Linked DNA regions of Homo sapiens. The protein of the gene in region 3 interacts with the protein of the main gene of each other region in a biochemical or structural test. Each region holds a gene or a part of one and is shown on either strand. Other genes may lie near its edges. The genes, in order: CREBBP, EP300, MYB and NLK.

Evidence for each region.
Region 1: the proteins of MYB (region 3) and CREBBP form a complex in vitro, tested with the Homo sapiens proteins (6 studies listed by BioGRID, with this or other methods).
Region 2: the proteins of MYB (region 3) and EP300 form a complex in vitro, tested with the Homo sapiens proteins (3 studies listed by BioGRID, with this or other methods).
Region 4: of the proteins of MYB (region 3) and NLK, one has a biochemical effect on the other in vitro, tested with the Homo sapiens proteins (2 studies listed by BioGRID, with this or other methods).

Annotation. Positions count from the first base shown.
Region 1 is NC_000016.10:3,765,707-3,772,732, forward strand, and holds part of CREBBP (CREB-binding protein), read right to left. Parts: intron 5,281-7,026; coding exon 4,864-5,280; intron 3,648-4,863; coding exon 3,468-3,647; intron 2,204-3,467; coding exon 2,014-2,203; intron 1-2,013. UniProt on the Homo sapiens protein: Acetylates histones, giving a specific tag for transcriptional activation. Mediates acetylation of histone H3 at 'Lys-18' and 'Lys-27' (H3K18ac and H3K27ac, respectively).
Region 2 is NC_000022.11:41,088,492-41,095,617, reverse strand, and holds the start of EP300 (histone acetyltransferase p300), read right to left. Parts: upstream 3,027-7,126; 5' UTR 2,614-3,026; coding exon 2,520-2,613; intron 1-2,519. UniProt on the Homo sapiens protein: Functions as a histone acetyltransferase and regulates transcription via chromatin remodeling. Acetylates all four core histones in nucleosomes. Histone acetylation gives an epigenetic tag for transcriptional activation.
Region 3 is NC_000006.12:135,184,285-135,191,310, reverse strand, and holds part of MYB (transcriptional activator Myb), read right to left. Parts: intron 5,409-7,026; coding exon 5,291-5,408; intron 3,478-5,290; coding exon 3,406-3,477; intron 1,521-3,405; coding exon 1,428-1,520; intron 1,185-1,427; coding exon 964-1,184; intron 1-963. UniProt on the Homo sapiens protein: Transcriptional activator; DNA-binding protein that specifically recognize the sequence 5'-YAAC[GT]G-3'. Plays an important role in the control of proliferation and differentiation of hematopoietic progenitor cells.
Region 4 is NC_000017.11:28,185,666-28,192,691, forward strand, and holds part of NLK (serine/threonine-protein kinase NLK), read left to right. Parts: intron 1-5,355; coding exon 5,356-5,554; intron 5,555-6,454; coding exon 6,455-6,548; intron 6,549-7,026. UniProt on the Homo sapiens protein: Serine/threonine-protein kinase that regulates a number of transcription factors with key roles in cell fate determination. Positive effector of the non-canonical Wnt signaling pathway, acting downstream of WNT5A, MAP3K7/TAK1 and HIPK2.

The DNA.
Region 1 (7,026 bases), on a different chromosome or scaffold from region 3:
ACATGATCAAGGCTCAGTGCATCTTTGACCTCCCAGGCTCAGGTGATTCTCCCACCTCAACCTCTCGAGTAGCTGCAGCTACAGGCATGCACTACCATACCCAGCTAATTTTTTTTTAATAGAGATTAGGTTTCGCCATGTTGCCTAGGCTGCTCTCGAACTCCTGAGCTCCAGGCTAGAGTGCAGTGGTGCAATCATAGACCCTGAATTCCTGGGCTCAAGCAATCCTTCCCCCTCAGCCTCCCAAAATGCTGAGATTACGGGTGTGAGCCACCATGCACGCCCTGCTTTTCTAAGTTGGTAAGACTTGTTTGAAGAGACTGATGGTGGTATTAACAAATGTTGATTTTTTTTTGACACTGTATAGTGAAATATGTCAACATATGGAAAATCTGCAGAACTTAAGTGTCAATTGAAAAAAAAATCATGCAAGCACAAAAGATCCATTCCAAGTACAAGATGGATCAATGGATTCTAATGTCACAGACTATGAAAAATCCAGTGCTATAGATTCTGGTTCAATGTCGCAACTAACCTTTAAGAAACCTTCACTGGCTGAATTTTGGTATAGTATCAAAGAATATCCACAATCAGCTGAAAGGGCTACGAAAATACTTCTCCCTTTACCAACTACAGGATTTTCTTCATACACTTCAACCAAAATAACCAATCACAACACAGTAAATGCAGAGGCAGATACCCTTAATAACGCCACTATTCTTACTTATTTTTGTTTTGGAAAAATTGTTTTTCATATAAATGTTTTCTATGGGTGCCATGTAACAGACTATTTTAAATGAACTAAATATTTAAAAATTTTTCTCTTTTTTTTTTTCAGACAACAATCTCACTTTTGTCTCCCAGGCTAGAGTGCAGTGATGTGATCTGGGCTCACTGCAGCCTCAAACTCCTAGGCTCAGGCAATCCTGCCGCTTCCGCTTCTCGAGCAGCTAGAATTATAGGCGTGCACCACCACACTTAGCTAGTTTTATTTTAGTTTTGTAGAGATGGAGCCTTGCTATGTTGCTCAGGCTGGTTTTGAACTCCCAGCATCAAGCAAGCCTCCCATCTCAGCCTCCCAAAGTGCTGGGATTACAGGTGTAAGCCACTGTACTCAAATTTCTCAACTTTAGTTTCCAGTAGAGTAAGCAATGATAGATAATCCACACAACAACTCTCTGGGGCCCTCAATTTCTAAGAGTATAAAGAGCCCTGAGATTCACTGTACTCCACACTCTCCAGGGTCCCTTCCAGCTGCAGAGTAACATGGTCTCAGTCTCTAACATTTCTCTGCAATCTTTCCCAAAAGTGTCATCTGCAGCCTTGGACTTTCTGAGTCCTGTCTCCCATTTCTAAGGTTCACTTGACAATTTTCTGATACCCTGTTATCTCTTTACTGTGGATACATCTCAAATGGATTCCATCCAACTTCCACTGTGAGGCGGGCTTACCTCACACATCTCAGACCCCAAAGATGCCTAACCTACCCCTCCCCCATGTCTCACTACACAGGGTCCCTAGGCGCCACCCTGCCCCTCACTCTGCATGCTCAGCTTCCTCACTGCACCTGCAGAAACCTTCTGCCTCCAAGTCACCCTGTGCTGTCATAATGACCATCTTCCTTAAATTATGGCTTTTTTGGTTATTCTCCTACTCACATACATCACTGGTTCTTTATACTTTTATGAGTAAAGCCAAGCTCCTTAACCTGCTCAAGGACCCAGACACATTTCAACTCGGCCCCTGCCAGCACCATCAGAAGACAGCTCTGCAGCCTGGGTGCCCTCGGAGCAGCAGCTCATCTCTCACTCCTGCCATGAGCCCCACAGGCACAGGGCAGGGGTCCTGCTCAGCCTGAGTGTTTCTGCAGGGGAAAGTCTGGGGAATGGCAGGCAAGAAAGGTAAAAGGGCAGATAGAATTATGTTTCTACTTTAGCTTTTAATCCTCCACATGGAATCCTAACACCGTGGAAAAGCAGCATGCTTTAATAAGGTAATGAATAAATGGCCTACTTTTTTTGCGCGGCTGCGAAGGAGATGTTGACTGAGAGGCTGTGCCGTTACTGCTACTCTCTTCTTCCTCTTTAACTTCTACTTTCACTTCAGGTTTCTTTTCATCCACTTCCATTGGTTCTGATTTCTGCTCTGCTATGTCTGTTTCTTCTTTAACTTGGGAAGCTCCTTGCAAATCCTCCTCCATCATCTTGAGAAAAACATTACAGATAACATATGAATATCAAACACCTTTATGTTACCGCAACCTCACGGGAAGACTCTTACAAGCCTAAAACAGGTTTGTTAAAACCTTCCTCTAGTCAGAGTTGCATTTATGATTCCTCTTCTCTTCCGGAAGAAGAAATAAAGTACTTGGTGTTCATTAAGTCGCTTCAGCACAGAGTCAGTGCAATTATGGTCCTAAATTTAAAAGTGTTTTTTTTTTTTTTTTTTTTTTTTTTTTTTTTTGAGACAGAGTCTAACACCCAGGCTGGAGTGCAATGGCAAGATCTTGGCTCACTGCAACCTCCCCCTCCTGGGTTCTAGCAATTCTCCTGCCTCAGCCTCCCGAGTAGCTGGGATTACACGTGTGTGCCACCACACTCGGCTAATTTTTTATATTCTTGGTAGATATGGGGTTTCATCATGTTGGCGAGGCTGGTCTCGAACTCCTGACCTCAAGTGATCCACCTGCCTCGGCCTCCCAAAGTGCTGGGATTACAGGTGTGAGCCACAGCTCCCAGCCTAATTTAAAAGTTTTTAAATGTAAAACTGCTTTAAAAATTGCACATACTCAGATTTTTCACTACAGATATTTCTAATTTGGAATAAAAATCTCCTTGAAAGTTGGGGCAGGGACCAAAAGTCCTTCTCAGAGGCAGGTGTGGTATGAGACAGGAAGGAGCAGTGGGGACTGTGGCTAATTGGAGAGCCCACTACAGTTGGTGCTCACAACCAGACTGCTGTCACACAGGGATGCAGGCACAATGCTGAAAGCATCTCATTTTTCAAGAAAAGCCAGAAATCTAGAGTTTTATTTGCAATTTCCTGATTTTTAAGGTATTGTGTGGGCCAAACACATTTAGAGGCTGGATCCAGCCCACGGTCTGCCAGCTTTCAGCTTCTGCCATAGGTTAATTAGTAAATGAATCCACCACCCCTTCTGTAGTCTACCTCTGCAGAACTAGAAATGAATGGAGAACATAAAATAAAAGGCTGTTGGATGATTCAAGTATTTCAAATATAAGCCAGTATTCTTCATTTCGGGCAAAATAAACCCACCCCTCATATTTAAAAATGAAAAACCAAGCTGTTTTCAATCAATTTCCTATACACCAAACCCCGAACCCACATTCAAACAGAATATTTTAACTAAAGTCAGGGATACCCATGGCAGGCTCCAAGCCTCGCCCGAGGACACCTGGGTAAAGTTGCGATACGCAGTCAATGCATTCCTAGGGAGCGGCACCCACCTCAGACCTGGGCTCCCCTTTGGATTCACCAGGATCGGGCTCAGTGTCCTCTGCTTGGGTCTCCGTCTTCATTTCCAGCACAGGTACGTCAGGTCCTGGCTGCTGGGAATTGGTTTCTGCGCTGGCCACCGAGGAGGGGGTAGGGACTCTGTTATCAATGCTGGCTGCTGCCTGGGAAAGCTGTGAAAAAACCGAAAGCACTGACTTCAGTAAGCAAGGTAACATAAATGATCTTCAACTATGCTGCTCATGCAACCTACAATTTCCCATTAACATTTCTCAATACTGATCCAGCAGGTGCCCTTCTGTGAAACCGAAGAACAGGGGTTAAAGTAGGAATGAGTTCTAGAGGGAGGTAACAGCAGCCAGAGGTACAACTCAGGTCTTGCCACAAAGGCAGAGGAAACAGCAGAGCTTTTCAAACTTTGACATAAATTTATTTTCTCGAAGTTTTCTAGCTAAATCATGAAATCTCATATTTTGAAATTAATTCCCTTCAATATGGTGGTTAATGTGTATGGTAAAAGGCTGAATTATGAATGCCTAAGCACATCTGAAGGGAGGGAAATCAAGTGCCTACCCAAAGACAGTGTTACCCAGCCTGTGTGAACGGTAGGAACACGGGTGCTGGTGGAGTAAATGAACATTACACGAAGGAACCACTAAAAGAATTCCTAATTTGCAAATTCTTACTCAATGGAATTTTTTTTTTTTTGAGACGGAGTCTCACTCTGTCACCTAGGCTGGAGTACAATGGCGCAATCTCGGCTCGATACAATTTCTGCCTCCCAGGCTCAAGCGATTCTCCCGCCTCAGCCTCCCGAGTAGCTGGGAATACAGGCACCAGCCATCATGCCCGGCTAATTTTTATATTTTTGTAGAGACAAGGTTTCACAACTTTGGCCAGGCTGGTCTCGAACTCCTGAGCTCCGGTGATCCGCCTGCCTCAGCCTCCCAAAGTAGTGGGATTACAGGCGTGAACCACCGCGCCCAGCCTCAATGGAGTTTTAAGTAAACAAACAAAAGATGACAATGTCTCGCTCTGTTGCCCAGGCTGGAGTACAGTGGCGTGATCTTGGCTCACTGTAACCTGTACCTCCTAGGCTCAAGTGATCTTCCCACCTAAGCCTTCTGAGTGGCTGGGACTACAGGACTACAGGCACACACCACCATGCTTGTCTGGTTAAAAAAAATTTTTTTTTGCTGGAGACGAGGTCTCACTATGTTGCCCAGGATGGTCTTGAACTCATGGGCTCAAGTGATTCTCCCACCTTGGCCTCCCAAGGTGCTGAAATTATAGGTGTGAACCACCGCGCCTGGCCTGACACACAATTTTTATGGGAAAATTATCTTCTAAGAGTCTTGGCCCAAAAACAGCAGAGACAGAGAGGCTTACCGGTGTGCCAGGAGGCTGGGCGTGCACAGGCGTCGGCTGTTGCTGCGATGACTGAGGGGTAGCCACAGACGGGGGCTGAACTGGGGTTTGAGGCTGCGGGGTCACCTGGGCCTGGGCTGCTGCCTGGACTGTAGGGGTGCTCTGGGTTTGGGTAGCACTGGGCACTGAGCCAGGAGTCGGGGTGGGAGTCTGCCCGGAAGACGACACAGGAGTTGATGGCTGAGTGGGAGCTGCTGGCTGGGGAGGAGTCATCCCAGGTGGTGTCGTGTGCTGGAGAGATGGCATGCCAGCAGCCGTGGAAGCAGGAGGCGGTGTTGGGTGCAGTGGTGACTGTGTCACTGGAGGGCAAGGTAGCTGGCTGGCCTGAGGCCCCAGCATGTTGAGAGGGTTAGGAAGAGCAGCACCAGGCACCTGTCCCTACCAGAAATGGACAGAGTATGGTAAAATTATTTCCCCCGTTTGAAAATGTGATGAAACATTTGAAAAATTAAATGTATGAAAAAAAAATTTTTTTTTTTGAGACAGTTTCACTCTTGTCGCCCAGGCTGCAATGCAATGGTGCGATCTCGGCTCACTGCAGCCTCCGCCTCCTGGGTTCAAGCAATTCTCCTGTCTCAGCTTCTCGAGTAGCAGGGATTACAGGTGCCCGTCACCACGCCCAGCTAATTTTTCTGTTTTTAGTAGAGATCGGGTTTTGCCATGTTGTCCAGGCTGGTCTCAAACTCCTGACCTCAAGTGATCCTCCCGCCTCGGCCTTCCAAAGTGCTGGGATTACAGGCGTGAGCCACCGCGCCCAGCCAAATGTATGGGAATTTAATCACATTTTCTTGGGAGTGTTCTGCTTGTGAAAATTCATCGAGCTATACACTTGTAATGGGCACTCCTCAATAACGGTAAAACTACACACGTTTCTTATAGTCTGATTTATATAATTAAAACAACCATTGAAACTTATGGCTTAAACACACACATCTACAGCAGTCCCCTCATATCCACTCGGATACATTCCAAGACCCCCAGTCTTGGAACGCCTGAAACTGCGGATAGTACTGAACCCAATATTTACCAAGATTTTTGGATCTGACAACCAAGGTGGACACTCAGTGACTAAGAGGTGGGTAGTGTCTACAGTGTGGAAATGCTGGACAAATAAATGATTCACATCCCTGGGGGCACAGAGTGGGATGGTGACAGAATTCATCATGCAACTTGGAATGGCACTCAATTTAAAACTTTTTTTTTTTTTTTTTAAAAAAAAAAAGACAGAGTCTCGCTCTGTCACCCAGTCTGGAGTGCAATGGCATGATCTTGGCTCACTGCAACCTCCATCTCCCGGGTTCCAGTGATTCTCCTGCCTCAGCCTCCTCAGTAGCTGGGATTACAGGCGTGCAATACCATGCCTAGCTAATTAATTTAAAATTTATGAATTGTTTATTCCCAGAATTTCCCATTTAATATTTTTGGACCACAGTTGACCCCAGGTAACTGAAACCTCAGAAAGTGAAATGACAGATTGGGGGAGCTACTGTACATTGACCCAGCCTATAAGCTTCATGTTCTATAACATGTACCCAATGTTCTTTAACATTTTCTAAGCTTAGCTTAGAAAAAGGTATTTTTTTTTTAAGTTGCTTCTTCCCTGGGGACTATAAAATAAATAAATAAAAATAAGAATAAAAGTTATTGACCATAAATATATACATCCATAAGTACCCTTAACAATTAAAAATTTAAAAAAAAAATTCTCTCTGAAACACAAACACACACACACACACACACACACACACACACACACACGTTAGTTACTGAAAGAGAACTGTTTCAGTGCAGTGGTTCTATACTGGGGATACACTTCAGAATTATTTGTGAACATTTTAAAAATGATTCTGAATCACTGTTCTAGAGCAGGGGTTGGCAATCTCCCAGGGCAAACACACTGAGCTGCTTGTTTCTGTAAATAAAGCTTTATTGGCACACAGCCACCTCATTTATGTACCACAGCAGCTTCTGCACTACAAGAACAGAAGTGATGAAAACCAAGATTGAATGGCCTGCAAAGCTGAAAATATTTAGTATCTGGCCCTTTACACGAAGTTTGCTAATCCTTGTTCTAGAGAAATGAAATGTTATGGAAAGTTAAGAATAATCATTTAGTGAGGAAAT
Region 2 (7,126 bases), on a different chromosome or scaffold from region 3:
AGGTGATGTGCCTCCAATAAAAGTTACCTGCAAACATATTACAAACTGCAGAATGTCAAAAAAAAAAAATTCAAGATATAATGGTACCTCTGGCCGGGCGGCTCATACCTGTAACCCCAGCACTTCGGGAGGCCAAGGTGGGTGGATCACTTGAGGGCAGGAGATCGAGACCAGCCTGACCAATATGGTGAAATCCTGTCTCAACTAAAAATACAAAAATCAGCCAGGCGTGGTGGTCTGCGCCTGTAGTCCTAGCTACTAGGGAGGCTGAGACAGAACTGCTTTAACCCAGGAGGCAGAGGTTGTAGTGAGATCGCACCACTGCACTCCAGCCTGGGTGACAGAATGAGACTCCATCTCAAAAAAAAAAAAAAAAAAAAAAAAATTACAATGGTACCCAACTTGAAGTAAGTTAACAGAGGGACAGTATTTTCTTTATACTCACTTCTCCCCTCCCCCAAACCCAGACTGGTTACAATTAAAAACCGTACACCAAAGAATTCCTGGAGTAGAATCTTGATTTGGGGAGGGGGGTAAAGTTAACCCTCATTACAAAATTTAGAAAAGTAACTAAGATAAACTCTTAGCATTATGAGTGAATGAATTAATCTCAATGTTGAGTTTTTTTTTAAACTATAAAAGCCCACTTAACACATTTAAAACTCTTGTAATTATTCAAAGATATTTCAAGTAGCAAAACAGACCGACATGGAGAAAGTAGTAGCACACCTGAACAGAAGTATTTAAACAATACAGCTCCAAGACGAAACTGCTCAAATCAGGACTACTCAAAGTACACAAAAAAGTTTCCCCTACGTTCCAAGTCACTGGCTAACTCCAATGTAAAATCGACTACCACGTTACACCAAAACTAAAAAGCAAAAACTACCACATTACACAAATACGAAAGAAACACCACAAAAATCTACAGGTGATTAAGTCTCTAAAGATGATCTAAAAAATGTTTCTGAATGGCACTTTAGTAGGTGCAAAGGAATACAACGACGTTTGTGTATGTGTATGAATTCTGAAGGAAAAAACCAGCTAAAAAAATCCCTGGAGACTACAGTACCTTCATAGAATAGGTACAGATCAAAGTTCATGCATAATCAATGTTACAAGCCTTAGGTAGAGGAACTCGCAAGATTCCTACTTCTCAATTTTTGCAGGTTAACTTAAATTCATTTCACATCTTTCTTATAAAAGCAACGAATTCAAAGCATTAGCTCTGTCTTCCCATTTTCACCCTCTGAAATGAAGCCTATTTAGAAACATGCTCTCGAAGTTCTCTACAAACTCAAAGGGTACATTTAACTCCATTATGCACTCTCACTGGCAGATGGAGGGATGACGCTGAGCCTGCTCTCAGGGAGTTAAAGAGATGCTCCGTAGTAAAGGGGAACATCTTGTGGACTGTCAGATGGCCAGCCATTCTTCATCTTCATTATCCCAGCAAAGAAAAGGTCCTTACCCATCAGGATAACACCATTAAACTAACTGTAAGAAAAGAATGAAGGGATGATGGAAGAAGTCTCCCTGAACTTCTCCTGACAAAGGAGCTAGTCCACAACTGAATGAACTGGTCGTAAAGCTTTTAAACGAAAATCTTGATCTCCAAGTATGTTTAAAAGTGTAAAAAGACAAAGACACACACAAACACCAAACCTAATGCACATTTTAAACTTTTGTACAATCAGTTCACGTTTGTAGTTCATGATTGGAACTCTTTCAACTTCTAACCTTGATTTCCAGGTACGTAACTCCACAAAATTGTTTATCTTATTTCCCCTAAAATGAGAAAGTGACTGCAAACTGCAAAGAACATGCCCCTGTTCTCCCAACCTAAAAACCCAGAGTTTCAGACATTTTGGTCTCACACCAAAGAACTGGGAGATGTGAAATGAACTGCGCTCCATATTGATTCTTAAAGCAAATAAGAAGAAAAAGGAAAAAAAAGCTAAGAATGGTAGGTAAGATAAAAGAATTGTTAAACTTCACCTCTAACCTGAAATCTTGGACCTCGCACACACAAAATCAAGATTTTTTTACACCCTATTCCTCAACAGAAAATATTCTGCAAAGGAGAGAAAATTTCGAAGAGTGGAAAGTAGAGGAAACACAGTAAGTACAGTAAAGAGAAAGGATTCGAAATTCATTTGCCAAGAACAAAAAAAATGAAACTTAAATTGCATAGGAGCTCTTACACACAAATGCATTGGCATTTCCCAAATTAAATTGCATGAGAGCAACAATACAGGCCATTTCTATATAGCACCCACTTACGAGCTCTAATTCCAGAACACACACCGATATGACATAGTGTTGCAATCAATGTATTAGGAGGCAAAGAAAATGGTTGGGCTACTGGACGTCTTCGACCAGCTCATTCAAATACCTTTAAAATTAATTAAGGGGCAGGGAACTAGAGAGAGAGGAAGAAAAAAAAAATGGAAGAATAAAGGCGCACCGAGTAGAAAAGATTAAAGGGAACGTGGAAGGCCGGGGCTGCCGAAACTAACCTGTGCCATCGCTGGCGGACGCCGAGAGGGCCGGAGATGAGAGTTTAGGCCGCTTGGCTGAAGGCGGCCCCGGTTCCACCACATTCTCGGCCATTTTTAATTCTTTCGGAGATACAAGCGAGGAAAACCAGAATCCTCAGGAAATCTCTTCTTCGGCCCGGGGTCCCCGCGCCGCACCCAGGGGTGGGCTGGGGGGCTCCGACGGCACCCGAGGGGGTGGGGGAAGTTCCTTTTTCTCTTCGCCGGGTCGCAGTGGCTGGAGAGGGATGCGGACTCGATAGAAAAGGTAAGGGCAAGTGCGAGGGGCCGGGCCTGGGCCCAAGCCCGGAGGAGGGCACAAGAGCACAAATTCGCCGAGCGCGTCCGCTGCGGCGAATTCCCGAGAACTCGCGGCTCTAGAGGCGCAGTCCCCGGCCCGCCACGGCCGGCCCCTGCCCAGCCGAGGTCTCTCGGAGCTCCGCCGCCGCCATCAACCTCTTCCTCCTCGGCGCTGTCCTCCTCCTTCTCATCGCCACAAGGAGGCGGGGGCGAAAAGGGGGGAGAGGAGGAGGCGACAAGAGACACTCACCTCCTCCCGGTGCCCCCTCCCGGGCCTGCGCCCCCACCCTCCGAACCCTCCTCCTGCCGCCGCGCTCCGCGCCGCCGCCGCCGCACCGGCCCCTAATGGCCGCAGAGAACTCGCCCGAGCCGAGAGCCAGGCTGGCGCCGCCGCCTCACATCGCGCGGCGGCCGGCGGAGGCGCGGCAAGGACGCCGGGAGCGGAGCTGGCCGGACCAGAGGGCCGAGGGGGCCGGGCCGAGCAGCGCCGCCCGCACGCCCGCGCCGACGCGGAGCCCACCGAGGAGGCCCCGCTCCGGCGGCGGCGCAGGCGGCCCCTCCTCGCGCCGCGCTCCCCTCCTTCGCCTTCCTTTCCCGCGGAAAATAAATAAATACGGCCGCTGCTACGGCCCCCACCGCCGGCGGCCAGGTGCTGGGAGCGCCCGCCCCCCGGGGCTCCGTTCGGGGCCGCCCGCGGCGGCGGGAGAAGACGCCGCGGGGCGCGGGGTTATGTAATGGTCCCCCCTAGGCGTCGACGCCGGCCCGGCTGCTGGACCGCGGTGGGGGTGTGTGCGGACGGGAGGGGGCTGGGGGTCGCCTCAGCCCGTGCGCCCCGGGCCCCCTGCCACTGTCTCGGCCCCTGCCGCCTCTCTCCGACCCGACTCCCCTCCGCACTCTCTGGCTCCCGCAGTTAGCACTCAGCCCGGCGTCCTGCTTGCCCACTCTCGCCCGCTCTCTCTCGCCCTCTCTCCCCCCCAGCCTAGCACACAAACAAGATGGCGGCTGTTGTTTCTTCCCTCTGCCGAATCCTCCTTACAGGCTAGCGGTAGCGGCGGCGGCCGGAAATGAGCCAAGGGGGGGTGGAAAAGGGGAGTGGCCGGGCCTCCGGAGGGGGGCGGGGCCTAGGCCCGAGCCGCTCACACAATGGGGGAAGTGGAGCCGGGGGCGGGGCCTGTCCCAATCACGGGATCCGCCCTAGGCCCCAACGCGGTTAGCGCTTCCGCAAACTCCCCCGGCGTCACCCTGTGGCTCCCTTTAAAGGGGAGGATTTTAAGAGTGGGGAGGATTTTAAGGGGGGAGGGGCGGGGGCGGACTCAGAATCTATTTTCAGTCGGTGGATAGTTACGAGGGAAGGTTCCTGCCTTTGGTCTCTGCGTAAGGGACCAGTGGGAACCGGGACGACGGAACCCCGGAGCTGCTCCGAGGAAGGCGCCAAGTCGCCACTCAGGTGGCCAAATGGGAGCGCCCGTAGGGCGGCCCTGCTCTTCGGCCCTTGGGTGGCGGGTCCCCCAAAACCCCGGTCGAATTCACCAGGCAGGGTGTACCCACTGCCGGCTGTTCCGGGCCAGATACCCAGTGCGTCCTCACTTCTCCATTGCCCTCCCAAAGGGAGCAGTTCACATCCAAAAAGCACGTTGATTACGAGTTGTTTTCATTTTCTCTGAATTTTCCTTTTCCTTTTTATGTATTATTTATTTATTTATTTTACAACGAGCATTATTACTCTGACCAGAAAACAAAATCACAGCAGTGGAAAGATGTTTCGGCACCAGACCCAAATTCATTTCTTGCCCTCCACGTGTGTCCATACGCCCTTACCAGGTAGCACTCTCACCGCAGAAGCCTTCAAGTATTTTCCTAAACATGGCTGGGACCTGAAGACATTTCTAGGGTTTGTCTTTTTTTTTTTTCTCGTCCGCTCCCAATAGAACAAGTTAGTAAAAGACCACGTCTAGCCATTGCCTTATCTAATGTAATTATGGGAAAAACAAAAATGTGGTAAAGGTAATGTAAGGATGGAAAAAAGCAAAAATGTAATGGTGAGAGGAAATGCTGGAATATAAAGTCTAGTGTGTGGGACTCCACAGTTTTGCAGCTGAGGTCGGAGACGTGCTTTCAGGTTCCTACACATCACCCTGTGTTTGGCCATGGGTAAATTGGTACTGGAGGAGGTGGCAGGGGTGTAAGTGACCCCGAAAGAAACCCCGAAACCAGTATCTACTGATACGGTTAAAAGCTTTTTCTCGGCCAGGCACGGTGGCTCACGCCTGTAATCCCAGCACTTTGTGAGGCCGAGGCCAGTGGATCACCTGAGGTCAGGAGTTCGAGACAAGCCTGGCCAACATGGTGAAACCCCGTTTCTACTAAAAATACAAAACTTGTCCGGGTGTGGTGGTGCACGCCTGTAATCCTAGCTACTTGGGAGGCTGAGGTAGGAGAATCTCTTAAACCCGGGAAGCGGAGGTTGCAGTGAGCTGAGATTGTGCCATTGCACTCCAGCCTGGGCGACAAGAGCAAAACTCTGTCCCAAAGAAAAAAAAATTTTTTTTCTTTTATTTCATATCTCATGCTCCGTAGCTGGTATTTGCAAATTGTTGGATTTTCTTTGTTTTTTTTTTTATATTGTTTCTGTTTGTTTTTTAAATTAATGTTGGGATGAATAAATAAGAACATAAGAGTGAAGATCCTAATGGAGCAATTGAAGTTGCTGACAGGGATGGAATCTGTCCTCTAATGATCAGGCCTAGATCACCCAAACTGCAGTAGAAAAGCAGGCAAATTGAACCGGGCGTGGTGGCTCACGCTTGTAATCCCAGCACTTTGGGAGGCCGAGGAGGGCGGATCAGGAGGTCAGGAGATTGAGACCATCCTGGCCAACACGGTGAAACCCCGTCTCTACTAAAAACACACACAAAAAAATTAGCTGGGCGTGGTGGCGGGCACCTGTAGTCCTAGCTACTCGGGAGGCTGAGGCAGGAGAATGGCGTGAACCTGGGAGGCAGAGCCTGCAGTGAGCAGAGATCGCCCACTGCACTCCAGCCTGTGCGACAGAGCGAGACTCTGTCTCAAAAAAAAAAAAAAAGGCCAGGTGCGGTGGCTCACGCCTGTAATCCCAGCACTTTGGGAGGCCAAGGCGGGCGGATCACGAGGTCAGGAGATCGAGACCATCCTGGTTAACACGGTGAAACCCCGTCTCTACTAAAAATACAAAAAATTAGCCGGGCACGGTGGCGGGCACCTGTAGTCCCAGCTACTCGGGAGGCTGAGGCAGGAGAATGGCGTGAACCCGGGAGGTGGAGCTTGCAGTGAGCCGAGATCGCGCCACTGCACTCTGGCCTGGGCGAAAGAGCGAGACTCCGTCTCAAAAAAAAAAAAAAAGCAGGCAAATTGAAAAGGACAGAACTTCTTTATCTTAAAGTTGTTACAGGATGAATTCAATGTGTAGGAGTGAGATCAAGATTGGCCTTCAGGGATAATTTTGTTATTTTTAATAGTTTATACCCATATTCAGACTAAGGAGTACAAAGGAAAGAATGTTGGTCGGGCACAGTGTCTCATGCCTGTAATCCCAACGTTTCAGGAGACGAGGGTGGGAGGATCGCTTGAGCCCAGCAAACATAAAGAGACCCCCCTATTCCCCATCTCTACAAAAGTTAAAAAAAAAAAATTACTTAGGCGCGGTGGTGTACACAGCACCTGTAGTCCAGCTACTCCAGATACTGAAATGGGAGAATCACTTCAGCCTGGGAAGTCGAGGCTGCAGTGAGGTGTAATCATGCCACTGCACTACAGCCTGGGCAATAGAGTGAGAGATCCTGTCTCTTAAAATAAATAAATAAATATTTTAAAAAACAAAGCAAAGAAATGAGAAATGTGGAGGACACCTGGAAACTTGCTCTGTCATTTCCTGGTGGGAGATTGCTTGCCCAGTTTTTTTTTTTTGTTTTTTTTTTTGAGACGGAGTCTGGCTCTGTTGCCAGGTTGGAGTGCAATGGCGCCATCTCAGCTCACTGCAACCTCTGCCTCCTGGGTTCAAGTGATTCTCCTGCCTCAGCCTCCCGAGTAGCTGGGACTACAGGTGTGCGCCACCACATCCAGCTAATTTTTGTATTTTTAGTAGAGATGGGGTTTCACCATTTTGGTCAGGATGGTTTAGATCTGTTGACCTCGTGATCTGCCCGCCTTGGCCTCCCAAAGTGCTGGGATGACAGGCGTGAGCCACTGCACCCGGCCTGTTTTTGTTTGTTTGTTTTCTTGTTTTTTTGAGACAGAGCCTTGCTCTGTCACCC
Region 3 (7,026 bases):
TATATACTACTTAAGTGGGAAAAATGGGACAAAATGAGCTTCCATAGTTATCCCTCATAATGAGGTCATTTTCTTGCCTTGTTCATTAAAAAGAAAGCATTATTACCCTGACATTATTTAAAAACCTGGAAGTAGTATGAGAATTCAAGAAATACATTATTTCTTTAATCAATGAAGTAAAAAATTAAGCAAAGTGGTATAATGAAATGAATACTGGTGGCCAGGTATGGTGGCCCATGCCTATAATCCCAGCACTTTGGGAGGTGAAAGGATTGTTTGAGGCCAGGAGTTTGATACCAGCCTGGGTAACATAGCAGGATTCCATCTCTACAAAAAATATTTTAAAATCAGCTGGGTGTAGTGGGGTGCACCTGTAGTCCTAGCTACTCAAGAAGCTGAGGTGGGAGGATCCCTTGAGCCCAGGAGTTCAAGGATGTATTGAGCTATGATCATGCCACTGCACTCTGTCACTCATGTGTGACAGAACAAGCCTCTGTCTCTAAAAAATAATAATTAAAAAAAATAAAAGAAATGAATGATGGTTATCAGGAAAATGGTAGCTGAGTTCCTTTGAGTAACTTAACCAGCTACGTGAACTGCCAGAGACAAACTGTCTTCAGTTTCTTTCTATGCATTTAGAGTTTTATAGTTTACCAAGTCCTTTGACATTCATTTTACTTGATCCTAACACTGGCCCTGTATGATTCATTTTGGAAATGGGGAAATTGAGGCTGGGGAAAGCTAAATGTCTTCACCCAGGGCTCACTGTCAGGTGGATCCTGGAAGTTCTCAACCAAATAAACTCTAAGATGTCTTCAATCTCTAAAAGCTATGTAGCTGGTTTATCTAATAAAACACTTACGACTGATGAAATATAATTTACTCACCATACATTTAAAGCAGAATGTTCAATACCCACTCCCTCATTCTTCCCGATCAATATATTTTTTGACATATTATTACCGTCCAGGCAGTAGCTTTGCGATTTCTGCCCATCTGTTCCCCAGTCTCTTGTGTGCCTGGTAAATAATTCTGTCTTCCTCTTCTGTCCAGGAGGTTTTCTTAACTTCTGGATTCAAGTGGTTATGCCACCTCTCCCTACATTGTTTTCCAATTCTCCCCTTTAAGTGCTTGGCAATAACAGACCAACGTTTCGGACCGTATTTCTGTACAAGCTCTATCACCTTCAGATAAACACACAAAAATAACCTATGTTTTAAAGTTATGTAATGAGTCAGTATAATCATTCTTCAGTGTTACAAGATCTTTAGAAAATTTCCAAAATTTGCTTTCATTCACTGGAAATATGGGAATAGAGTCCTCTACTTCCTGTTTGCCCATTTTACCTGCTTCCTCAAATAGGAAAATATTAGCATTTTGGGAATATTCTTAATTATGAGTCACACACCAATGAAGAAAGAACTTACTCTCTGATCTTCTTCTTTGGTCCAAGGACCCTTGATGAGCTCAGGGTTTAGTACTTTCTGCCATCGGTGCTGGCACTGCACATCTGTTCGATTCTAGACAAATAAAGTATGCACCACCATAAAGATATGATGTGATAAGCACGTGAATTTTTTGTTGTAATAGGAATCACACATAGACCATATGCAGTGAAAATATTTAAGAACATTTTAGAGCATGTTTAGAGCCCATCTATCCCTCATTACTTACAGGCTACAGAACATGCAAGTAATATATCAAAGTTGCATCTAAAATTAGACACTCTGCCTCCTGAGGGAAACATTCCTGCCACATGATCTAAAGGACCATCATACTACACATGTGCCTGCCAAGTTAACCTTAACCTCAGATACTTTTGCAGAGTATCTACATAGCCTGAGGCTTGATAGAGATTCTATGTTGTCAGGCTTTCATGGAAACCACCCTAAAAGACTAAAGTTTGCTTCCCATTCAGACAAGAGATGTGCTTCAATCCAGGACCAAAGTATTTATATTGCAGAAAGAAAAAAGATGCATAAAAGATAGGTCCTATGTTACAGGAGTTTGTAAACTTATAAGAAGGAAAAGACAAGTAGATGACTGACTATCACAGATGCTGAATTTGATTCACTTGGAAGAAAAGACCAAAGCAAAATGATACTGAAGTGAGGAGAGAAGCATCTTCTTAGGAGGAGAAATGGTTTCCTTGGGAGGAGTCTTGAAGAGCTCTTCATAAGGACTTTGAAGGATGGACAGAACTTTAATTGGTGACATAAAGGGAGAATATTCTAGGAGGTGGGAAGACCAGGAGCAAAAGCCCAGAGGAGGTAAAGCAGAAATAAATTCAAGCAAACCTGCTTAGAGAGAGGAAGCAGGAAACAGAACTGGAGCTGTAAGTTGGGGCAATAGAGGAGGGCCTCTGTGTGCCAAGTCAAGGCAGTTTACTTAATTTGTGAGATTCTGTCACTGTGGTTGGTTTTGAAAAGATAAGGTACAGCTGCATTTTAGGAAGTTCCACCTGCCAATGGTGTTTGGGATGAATGGAAAAGTAGAAGACTGGCTGGGCACGGTGGCTCATGCCTGCAATCCTAGCACTTCGGGAGGCTGAGGTGGGCAGATCACTTGAGGTCAGGAGTTTGGGACCAGCCTGATCAATATGGTGAAACCTTGTCTCTACTAAAAATACAAAAATTAGCCAGGCATGGTGGCGGGCACCTGTGATCCCATCTACTAAGGGGGCTGAGGCACGAGAATCGCTTGAACCTGGGAGGCGGAGGTTGCAGTGAGCTGAGATCGTGCCACTGCACTCCAGCCTGGGCAACAAAGCTAGATTCCATCTCAAAAAACAAAAAACAAAAAACAAAAAAAAAAAAAAGAAAGAAAAATGGAAAACTACAAGTGGGGAAGCCAGTTAGGAAGTTATATGATAGTCCAAATGAGAGGGCAGGAGCCCAACCTTCAGCACAGCCATGAGAATGAAAAGGACGGGACTGACTATAAAGGAATTCCAGGGTCCTTAGTAACTGCTTAGATGTAGGGGTTGGGGGAATGTGATAAGTCAAGAAAGGTCTTCAGAATTTTAAACCTTGGTGCCAAAAGTATTGCTATTGACAAAAATAGGGAATTCAGGAAAAACTGACTTGGAGGAAATATCAAGTTTAATCAACTACCATGTAACAAATCATCAAAATACTAATTATCCTATAAATGAAAAGATAAAACAAGAAGCAACTGTTTTTAAAATTTGATAATCTAAATTATAATAATCGATTCTAATAATCTAAATTCTAATAATTTAATTATATGCATTATAATATAAAATATAAGTTATGGGTAGGGCATTTCTCCCACTTCTTAAATGTGAGTAAATTATACACTATCTTAATAACTCCTCCTAGAATATTTTATAGAAATCTTTGGGAGAAGCTTTCCTTTCGTTATAAGAAAAACTTACTAACTTACCGGGAGATAATTGGCAATAACTTTCCAGTCATCTGTTCCATTCTGTTCCACCAGCTTCTTCAGTTTTTCATCCTAAGACATTTAAAGGTAATCCTAGGATATCAGTTATTTACTATATAACTCTGTTCAAGTTAAAGTGAATGAGGGAACGAATCTAGAATAAAAAGTCTCTCTAAAGTATCCGAATACAGGAGATATTAATGTAATATACGGACTTGGGAGTATAGATTTATTTAGAATCAGACCAGAGTTGGCATCTTGACTCAACTATTAATTGTGTAAAGCGGGTATACCATTTTACCTTTCTGGGCCTTAGTATTGCCATCTATAAAATGGAAATTAACAGGGTTATTTGGGGATTACATGGGGCAATTTATTAACATGAGGCTGATATTAACAGGGTTATTTGGGGATTACATGAGGCAATTTTGCAAAACATTTATCATAATGCCTGGCATATATTGAGTGTTTATTATAAATAACTGCTTTACTCTGTTAGGAAAAAATGCATTCCAGTGCTAGATTCAGTACACATTTACCTATGGTAATAAATAGGATCTTGAGCAAGAAATAGAATATTTCCAGTTAGTTTAACTTTTTATAAAGAAATAAAGACCATTTTTAAAATTAAATTTGAAAGCTATATAAGAAAATCAGTTAGATTTAGATAGGCCAGATGTGTTAGAACATAAAAGACATTAAACATTTCCAGCTAATCAGTTCTTTTAGTTTATATGCTGTTCACAATCCTACCAGTTCATAAGTATATAAATGCATTCCTTCTTATGTTTCTGCAAAGGTAACATTCACACACAGTGGAGGTCCCTGGTACAATACAGACACAAGAATTAGGAAACCAATGTTGACAACAGAATTTCCGTATCATAAGGATTATCCAAGTGGATAATCTTAATAGGTAAAATATGAATTTCCTATGGGCCTCTCTGGGAATCCTACCTGCCTGTTAAAAGGAGCTCTGGTTTAAATGAAGCAGAGAACAGTGAAACTGAAGAAGAGCCAATACCATTTATTGTAACATGAATCATCTAAAATTAGTTGCAAAAATTTTAAGAACATTAGAGAAACTTTTCTCCACATATTAATAATTTTGCTTCTAAAATATTTTTCCATTCCTACAAAATCAAACTTTTGATAAGCCAGCCGAAAAAGAAACAGGAGAAGCAGATGTGTCTCCATCCATTATCGGATGATTTTAAAACATACCTTCATATAGATGGCTCTGTTAAGTATATCAAGGATATTAAATCAATACACTGTAAAAAGATGAGTTCTCTGAGTGTTTTGTTTTATTCTTTTGTTTGTTTTGTTTTTGGGAGTAGCAAGTCATTCACTTATTGAGAGAACATTTATTAATATCCTATTTTGGGTCCAAGCATTTGTGAATTCAGGAAACACAAAGATGAATAGACAAGAGCCCTGCCCTCAACAGACTTGCAGTCAGCTGGAGGAGGTATATATGTCCCAGCAACAATAAAGTAGAACATGCACCCATGCATGGGATCACAGGAGGATGCATCCAATCCTGTCCGGCGAAGCCAGGGATGGCTTCACAGAAGAGGTGATGCCTTCATGGGTAATGTAAAAGTAGGAAGAAGAGGTGGGACAAAAGGATGAGAACTCAACAGGCAAAAGGAAACACAGATGAAGCCTAAAATGAGAAGAGGACATTCAAAGAACTGCAAATAGTGTGGAAATGGATAATATAATGAAGTGGGGGGCATAGGGCACGCTGCACATGCGGGCTAGGATAAGATCTCAAGGAGCCTGCTAATGAGCTTGAGCACCTGTAGTTTAGTTGAAATTTTGTTTTTTATAAATTATACACTCTATCTATTTTCTGCGTCTTGATAAAATGATTAGTTACCTCTTCCCGGGTCCACCTTGTTTTCCCCAAGTGACGCTTTCCAGACTTGGGAAGCAGCCCATCATAGTCATGGTCACACATCTCAAAGTCCTCATCATCCTCGTCACTGCTATATATGCTGCAGAAATAAGAATGGGTAGACGTGGGCTGAAACAAGAGGATTTAGACTACTACTGGATTACAAAACTTACACAAAACTCCTCAACAATCTTTTCAAAGGTTATGAAGACAAAACTTTGAAAACTTGCACAACAAGATTGTTTGCTGCATTCTGTTGCTCTAGTATTGTAAACTGGTTCTGCTGTTATGGGTATCCACAGACACGGCCAAGGACCTGGCACCTTCCTATTCCCCTGCATGTCTGAACCTGCTGTTACTATTAGACCAGGGACAAGTTACACATTTGGCCACCTTCCAACCAGTGAAGGTTTAAGTTGAAAACTTAAGGTTAAGGATAAGAAAAGGAACAAGAACCCATGTCCTTTATATAAGTGCACACTCAAAATCTTTGGCATCTGTCACATCGTTTAAATAATATTTCTCAAACATAATAAACAATTCAACTATGCTATTCCAATGGGGTTTTTGTTTTATTAAAAGAAGAAAAAAATCAAGAAGTAGTACAGCGCAAAACAGAATTATAGTGATCCCATAAAGTCTAGAGGATTAGGAGAATCTAAGAGGAAAGGATTTTAAAACCAAAGCAAAGATAAGAACATTGAGTGATCAAGCTTTAATGTTTTGTAAATAAAATTAATACCAAATTGCTCACAACTCCAGGCCTGGTTGATCCAACTTGTGCCCATGTTTACAATACTTAGTTTCTAGAGTAACTAAGTGAATAATTAGGCCACTTGTTAGTCAGAGTCTTACTTACTCTTGTTTTTTCTGTCTCTGATGGAATGGTGTTTGAAATATTATAAAATGTAACCTAATCCAGAAGGGATTTCCCCAGAAAAAAGCCATGGATTTAAAAGAACCCATTACTATTTTCGAAAGCTTTTTCTTTTATTTAGTTAACCTAACCTAGGAAATTTTATGACTTTTGAAGAAGTAACTATATGCTTACTGTTTGTTAATCATAATCATAATGTTTGTTAATCTAATCAACTGATCAGATGACAATAATTTTACAGACACGGTTTATTTTATAGTTTTTCTTATAAAACTTAAAATAGGAAAAATACTATCTTAGAAACTTCACTAAAATTTGTCATTGCAATGTTGGGAAACCCATTAAACTAAGACCAATAAAAACAATGATATAAAGCCATATCATAATGTAAATCATTGTTTTTAAAAAGAAAAGTTATATTCATTACAGGTTTTGTCTTCCCAAACTAACTCACTGGTATGCATATTACCAGCCCCCTACAAGTGAAGCTGAAGTGCTTACCAAAAATCCTGAATTGGGGGTTCTCATAATTTAAAGCTATTATTTTAAGCAACAATCTGATAGTCCAGGTTGAATGGCGACATGATGTAATCCAAATTTAAAATACCACCACCACCAAATAAAATCCCAGGAAATATATATTTATAATCTGTAATAATTCCTTTCATTTAGTGTCTGTGTTTTGAAACAATAGCCTAGTTCTGTTTCCACTGTCAACAGGAGGCACTAAACAACTTCTGAACAAGAACTACAAAAATGTAAAACACGATATGATAAAGCAAAAAAAAAAAAAAAAAAAAAAAGCTATAAAGCCCAGAGGTGTAAGTCTGCATCTTTTGAA
Region 4 (7,026 bases), on a different chromosome or scaffold from region 3:
AGCCCCCTGAGTATCTGGGACTACAAGCATGCTCAGCTAATTTCTAAATATTTTGTAGAGAAGAGGTCTCACTATATTGCCCAGGCTGGTTTGAACTCCTGGAGTCAAGTGATCCTTTTGCCTCAGCCCCGCAAAGTGCTGGGATTACAGATGTGAGCCACCGCGCCCGGCCAGGACACAAAGTTTTTTAAGGTTATTTGAAAAAAAAATCTGACCATTATATTGCATAAGGAAATGTTTGCTCTGTGTTGTTGAGATGGAAGCTTTTCCCAATACCCTTTCTGGACTTGACTCTTCTGGAACATACTACAAATTATACTGTAAGTTCAGCTCTTCATTTATTCATTCATCCAAAGAATATTTATTATTCACATCTATGCCAATAACTATTGTCAAAGAAGACTTAAAAATGGAAGCATTTAGTAAAGAAAATTTAACTTGCCAAGAATACAAAGTCACCAAATACGAAAAATACCAGATATTTAAAAGATAAAACAACCACAAAATTACCAAAGTTATTAAGTTTACATTGGTCCATTTGTAGTGAGAAAGCTGCAACTTTCTCAGAAGATATCAAATTCACAAAGCTTCAGACATCAGCACAGCAAAGATTAGGGATAAAAATAATTCTGTTAAGGAGTTCAGGTTTGTGAGAAACAGTCAAGGTTTTTTTATTTGGGGGACCAGAACCAATTAGGGTGACCCAAATTATTTTTGTAATGTCTCAGGGTACAATTTAGATTGCTTATGTGTTTATTTTGGTGTTTTTTGCTGTTGTTTTCTTTTTTGTTTTTTTACTGTGGTGTATTAGTCTGTTTTTACACTGCTGATAAAGACATACCCAAGACTGGGCAATTTACAAAAGAAAGAGGTTTAATTGGACTTAAACCTTAAAGTTCCACATGGCTGGGGAAGCCTCACAATCATGGCGGGAGGTGAGGAGGAGCAAGTCATGTCTATATGGATGGCAGCAGGCAAAGAGAGAGAGCTTGTGCAGGGAAACACCCCTTTTTAATCTGGTCAGATCTCATGAGACTTATTCACTATCACGAGAACAGCACAGGAAAGACCTGCCCCCATCATTCAGTTACCTCCTAGGTCCCTCCCGTAGCATGTGGGAATTCAAGATGAGATTTGGGTGGGGACACAGCCAAACCATACCATGTGGTATGTGAAGTGCTTAGTGATACTATAAGCCTGACAAAGTGGCAGTTCTTGCTCCCACAGTCTCTCTTTGTGATCAAGTTCCCACTATTAAGGACAATTTCAATCATATAACTTGCTTTATTGAGCTAGTGATTTACTATCATTTGATATTTTGTGTTATTTGGTAAGTTTATCTACATAACTAACAGAAGATGTTGATCAATATGTTAAAAAACAAACTCCTTTTATATGGTTAACAAAACTAGAGCTGTGTGAAATTCAGGCTTCAGAGGTAATTTCTGTCTGACCATAGAGGATTTTATAAAGGGTCTAGGATTGAAATTTATGTGTTAGAAATATTTTATTCTCTATTTCTATTTAGATTTGGATCCAAGAACCATGTAACTCACCTCTACCAGGTGTGCATACACTGTTTAGAGCTGTAAGGCATCCTCTTTCTCTGAGATCCCATGTTTTGTTTGGTTTGGTTTGGTTTGGTTTGGTGTTTTTGAGACAGAGTCTCGCTCTGTTGCCCAGGCTGGAGTGCAGCAGCGCAATCTCAGCTCACTGCACCTCCACCTCCCGGGTTCAAGCGATTCTCCTGCCTCAGCCTCCTGAGTAGCTGGGATTACAGGCACGTGCCACCACACCCGGCTAATTTTATATTTTTAGTAGAGATGGGGTTTCACCATGTTGGTCAGGCTGGTCTCAAACTCCTGACCTCATGATCCACCTGCCTTGGCCTCCCAAAATGCTGGGATTACAGGCATGAGCCACCGCACCCAGCCTAGAGATCCCATGTTTATTAATGCTCCCGATCTGCCAGGAAGGTAGTGTTTACAGTCTTTAAGGCTGGAACTTCCTAAGCCATAGAGCAAGTAGTAAGCCCATTTTTCTGGGAGGTCTTTTGTACACAAGTTCTACATGTGACATGTAGTCCTTATTCCTTAACAGTGGGATTATCACACTTAATTAAATGAAATTTGTGGTGTAGTTGTAGTTATAAAGATTTATCTAAGGAGAAAGATTTATCTGGTAAGGAAGAGTATATATTCTTTTGGAACCTATGTAAGTAACTACATAGTCATTTAAAAATAAAGAAATTAGGCTGAGCATAGGGCACAGTGGCTCACACTTGTAATCCCAGCACTTTAGGAGGCTGAGGCAGGAGAATCTCCTGAGCCCAGGAGCTTAAGACCAGCCTGGGCAACTTAGGGATTACAAAATTAAAAATTTTTTAAATTAGCTGGGCGTGGTAGCACATGCCTGTAGTTCCAGCTACTCCAGAAGCTGAGGTGGGAGGATGGCTTGAACCCAGGAGGTTAAGGCCAAGGCCACAGTGAGCCATGAGCTCACCATTGTACTCCATCCTGGCAAGGGAGACAGAGGGAAACCCTGTCTCAAAAAGAAAGAAATTAATTTATTTAATGCACACTACATAATAATTAACCATTTTTATCACTGTGTTATAAACAAAGCCGACAAGTTTGTTACTTTGTTACAGAACTATTTTTAAATTAGCCTGATGCTTTATTAGCTTTTGATCTATATTAAGGATTTTTTTTATTTCCAGTTCTGAGAGTTCAATGAGAACAAGAAACCATTTAAAGAGAGGTTTGTTCTGATTTTAACCTGTTAAATTGAAAGTCAGCAATACATTAAGAAAGAAATGAGGTGTGTTTGTGTGTCAGGGTCTCACTGTGTGACCCAGGCTGGAATGCAGTGGCACGATCTCCGCTCACCACAACCTCCACCTCCTGGGTTCAAGAGATTCTCCTGCCTCAGCCTCCTGAATAGCTGGGATTACAGATGTGCGCCACCACACCCAGCTAATATATTTTTATATTTTTGGTAGAAACAGGATTTCACCGTGTTGACAAAGCTGGTCTCGAACTCCTGACCCACCTTGGCCTCCCAAAGTGCTGGGATTACAGGCGTGAGCCACTTTTTAAATATCCATGAAGAACAGACCATTGACCATAATTAAATCAGTGTATTTATTTAGTCCATTTAGTCTGAGGTAACTAGTTATTCTTGTTTTGTTGATCTTGGGTTAAGCAGTCTACTGCCATCACATGTCTGCTCCTGAACTGAAATGATGACTCAATTACTTGATTCAGTCTAAGAGCAGGTGTCTGTGGTGAGATACACATACACAGACAAACACAGACACACACACACACACACACACACACACACACGCTGAACATCCCTAATTTGGAACTTTGAGTGCCAACATGACACCACAAATGACCTGACCTCAGTGACAGGTCACCATCAAAAAGCAGGCATACAACACACAGTTTGTTCAGTATCCCCAAGGGAAAAAAGACCCCCAGCCTCCTTCAGCTGTGATTCTATCTTCCCCAAGCATATCCAGATTCCCCCATGCAAATGTGCCCACAAAGGGTAATAAAATGGCACATCTGCAGGCCAGATGCACCAATGACAGGTTCCCCACAATGTCCCACATGCTGCCAAGACCTATAGGCATTATTTACTGTATTTTTTGCCTATTCTGTGCTCTTTGGAGTAAAAATATTGTTGAAAATGTCAAAAAGTCCTGCAGATAACCCAGCAGGTAACTGATTTTTTTAAAAAGAGGAAGCATTTCTGTTTATAGCACAGAATGCCAAGCTATTGGAGAAACTGCACAGTGGTGTAAGTGTGAAGCATCTTACAGACAAGTATGTTGTTGGAATGATCACTGTATGTAACCTAAAGGAACAGAAGGATAAACCGTTGAAGTTCTGTCCTGAAACTCATGAACAGAAGTTAAAGAAAAATAGAAGGAAAGGGAAGCCAAGGGCTCAGAGAGGCCTGGGATCAGGCACATACACTGTCAGCCTACTTGTTCCTTTGGGTTCAAACAGTGGAACACTATCCCAGTGGAATCTCTAGGAATCGCTATCAAAGGACTCAGACTTTTTTAGAAAAAAAGAAAAGGAAAAAGTTTACTTGCTAAGAATGCAGGGAAGTCAGACTTCAAAAGAGCTAGATCACCAAATACAAAACATAAACTTATTGAAAGGAAAAAAAAACAAGGTTATCAAGTATACGTTTGCCTGTTCCTGGTAGATAAACACCCGCTTTCTTCTGTGATTATCTTATCTTGAAAGGTCATGACATGCCTTTTTACATCAGCATAGCAAAAATCAGTGATAAAAGTGTTTTTAGGGAATCCGGGCTTATGAGAAACATTTCATTATTATTTGGGAACGAGAACAGTTGTTTTTGGTTTATCTGAGAACAAAAGTGGTTTTCATTTTTAAATTGTGTAATGTGAAGAAGTGCTTGGTCATATTGGAATCAGGGCAAAGTGTGTGTTCTTGTTTTTGTTCTACTGTGTACTAGTGAGTTCATCCTTAAATCTTTAAAATTTACTTTCAGTAATACACGTATGTCTACTGAGCTAAAAGAAGGGACAATTTCTTTAATTTTTTCATGGAGTAATGTTAAAAGTTTAGATTTTCAGGCAAACTTAAAACTCATGCATTCAGTATTCTGATCTAAAGTGACAGAAAATGACTAGGTGCAGTAGCTCATGCCTGCAGTCCCAGCACTTCAGGAGGCCAAGACTGGAGGCCACAAATTCAAGAACACAGTGAGACCCCATCTCTACAAAAAATTTAAAAATAAAGTGCCAGAAAACAAAAAGCTAGACTAGACTTCTGATATTCAGACTGAGCTATATCTCAAAATATGGCAGTCAGACCACTGTCTGCTGCCTAACTCCAGCAGCTTTTGCCATCATCTGTTTGGTATTCTAAGAGAATAAAAATTTCAAGCAACTTTGAAAATTGCCACTGTGAACGCATCTTCAGGATGCTGACACATATTTAGAAAATATAGCCTGTTATTTAAAAGGTAAACGTAACCCCTTCAAAGCACTACATAGTTAAATGTCATGATATTTGTGATTTTTGACCCAGCATACATCTATTTCAATGTAGTAACTTCTTAGAATTTTAGAAGAAAGGCACTTCTAAGTACTTTGTGATGGTAGATAATAACAGTAGTTGTCCTAAATCATACACTCCCTCTGCTGCTATGTTACCCACCTCTAAATTCAATTATCCCTCTTTGGACGGGATGTACTATAAATTATATATATGCTATGTCAAGCAGTTAATGTGTCTTTTGAAAGATCCTATGTGGACAGTCATTTTATCTGTAGTGTTGATGTGCTGGTCTCTAATTTGATTTCAGTCCAAAAGAATATCCGCTAAGGATGCCTTAGCCCACCCCTACCTAGATGAAGGGCGACTACGATATCACACATGTATGTGTAAATGTTGCTTTTCCACCTCCACTGGAAGAGTTTATACCAGTGACTTTGAGCCTGTCACCAATCCCAAATTTGATGACACTTTCGAGAAGAACCTCAGTTCTGTCCGACAGGTTAAAGGTGAGTATCTGTTTTGGCCTTTGGCCAGGCAATATGCCTAGTAACATTTTCCATTAGGTGGCCATGAAGAGCTGAGATCTGGATGGTAACCAAAGCTCCCCTCTATGTTTATTTTACAACCTTGCGTATAGCTGTGTGTCCGGGGCATAACAAAGCATATTTAATATTATATCCAGGGGAAGGTCGGGGAGAGGAATGAATATTTTGTTCTTATTTTCAAAGTTTATTTAGTGAGTATGACTCAAAATATGTTTAATATGTATTCACTCAGTGTCATTTCATTGATTCAAACGTATTGAACTTTATATAACATACAAAGTTCCATAAAGGATAAACATTCACTGAGGGAATTATTCCTTGGACGATGACAAGAGAAGGGAATTTCTGATAGTGTACTCATAAAATTTTGTGGCAGGATCTCCTATTGGAATACAGTGGGAGTAATGACATCCAAAATTCTGAGTGATTTTAGTGTCTACTGTAGGACATTTTACAAGAGAGAGAGTAGTCCCCAAAGTAACCACCTGAAACTATACACCTAGATACCAACTGAGGTCTTTAAGTGATCTTCAAAAAGGCAATAATTGCCAGCAACTTAGAAGAGTTCACCCATAATGCCAAACCTGTGGAGTCTCTCTCAAATTTATAGGCCATTTTACTCTTCCCACTGATGGGGTTGCAGTCTGTGTAATGCCACCAGTAGGTTTCTTATATTTAGCAACAGCTGTCATTTTAGTTTTAGGAAGTTCAGCTGAATTCTGCTTGATAGATGATGTGTGTGTTTGATTTAACTAAACCAGTAGGCAGTGCTTTTCAGATGCTGGCTAGAGTTCGCTGAGAATTCACTGCTCCCGGGCTTGCAAATTGTCATGGATTGTATGATGTTTGTTTTCTCCACAGAAATTATTCATCAGTTCATTTTGGAACAGCAGAAAGGAAACAGAGTGCCTCTCTGCATCAACCCTCAGTCTGCTGCTTTTAAGAGCTTTATTAGGTAACTATATGTATGTAATTCAACATTCTTGTTAGAATTAAAAGGATGCCAGTGTTACTTCATTATTCAGCATATTTGTTTTTATTTAGATAACATAGATAAAAGGTGCAACAGAAAGTTTCTGTTATGAGGTTTGGCTTTAGTCAAAAGTGTATTAAAACTGTAAGCATCTGGGCTGGGCGCGGTAGCTCATGCCTGTAATCCCAGCACTTTGGGAAGCCAAGGCAGACAGATCACCTGAGGTCTGGAGTTCAAGACCAGCCTGACTAACATGGAGAAACCTTGTTTCTTCTAAAAATACAAAATTAGCCAGGCATGGTGGTGCATGCCTGTAACCCCAGCTACTTGGGAGGCTGAGGCAGGAGAATCACTTGAACCCGGGAGGCAGAGGTTGCGGTGAGCCGAGATCGCACCATTGCACTCCAGCCTAGGCAACAAGAGCGAAACTCCATCTCAAAAAAAAAAACAAAAAACTGTA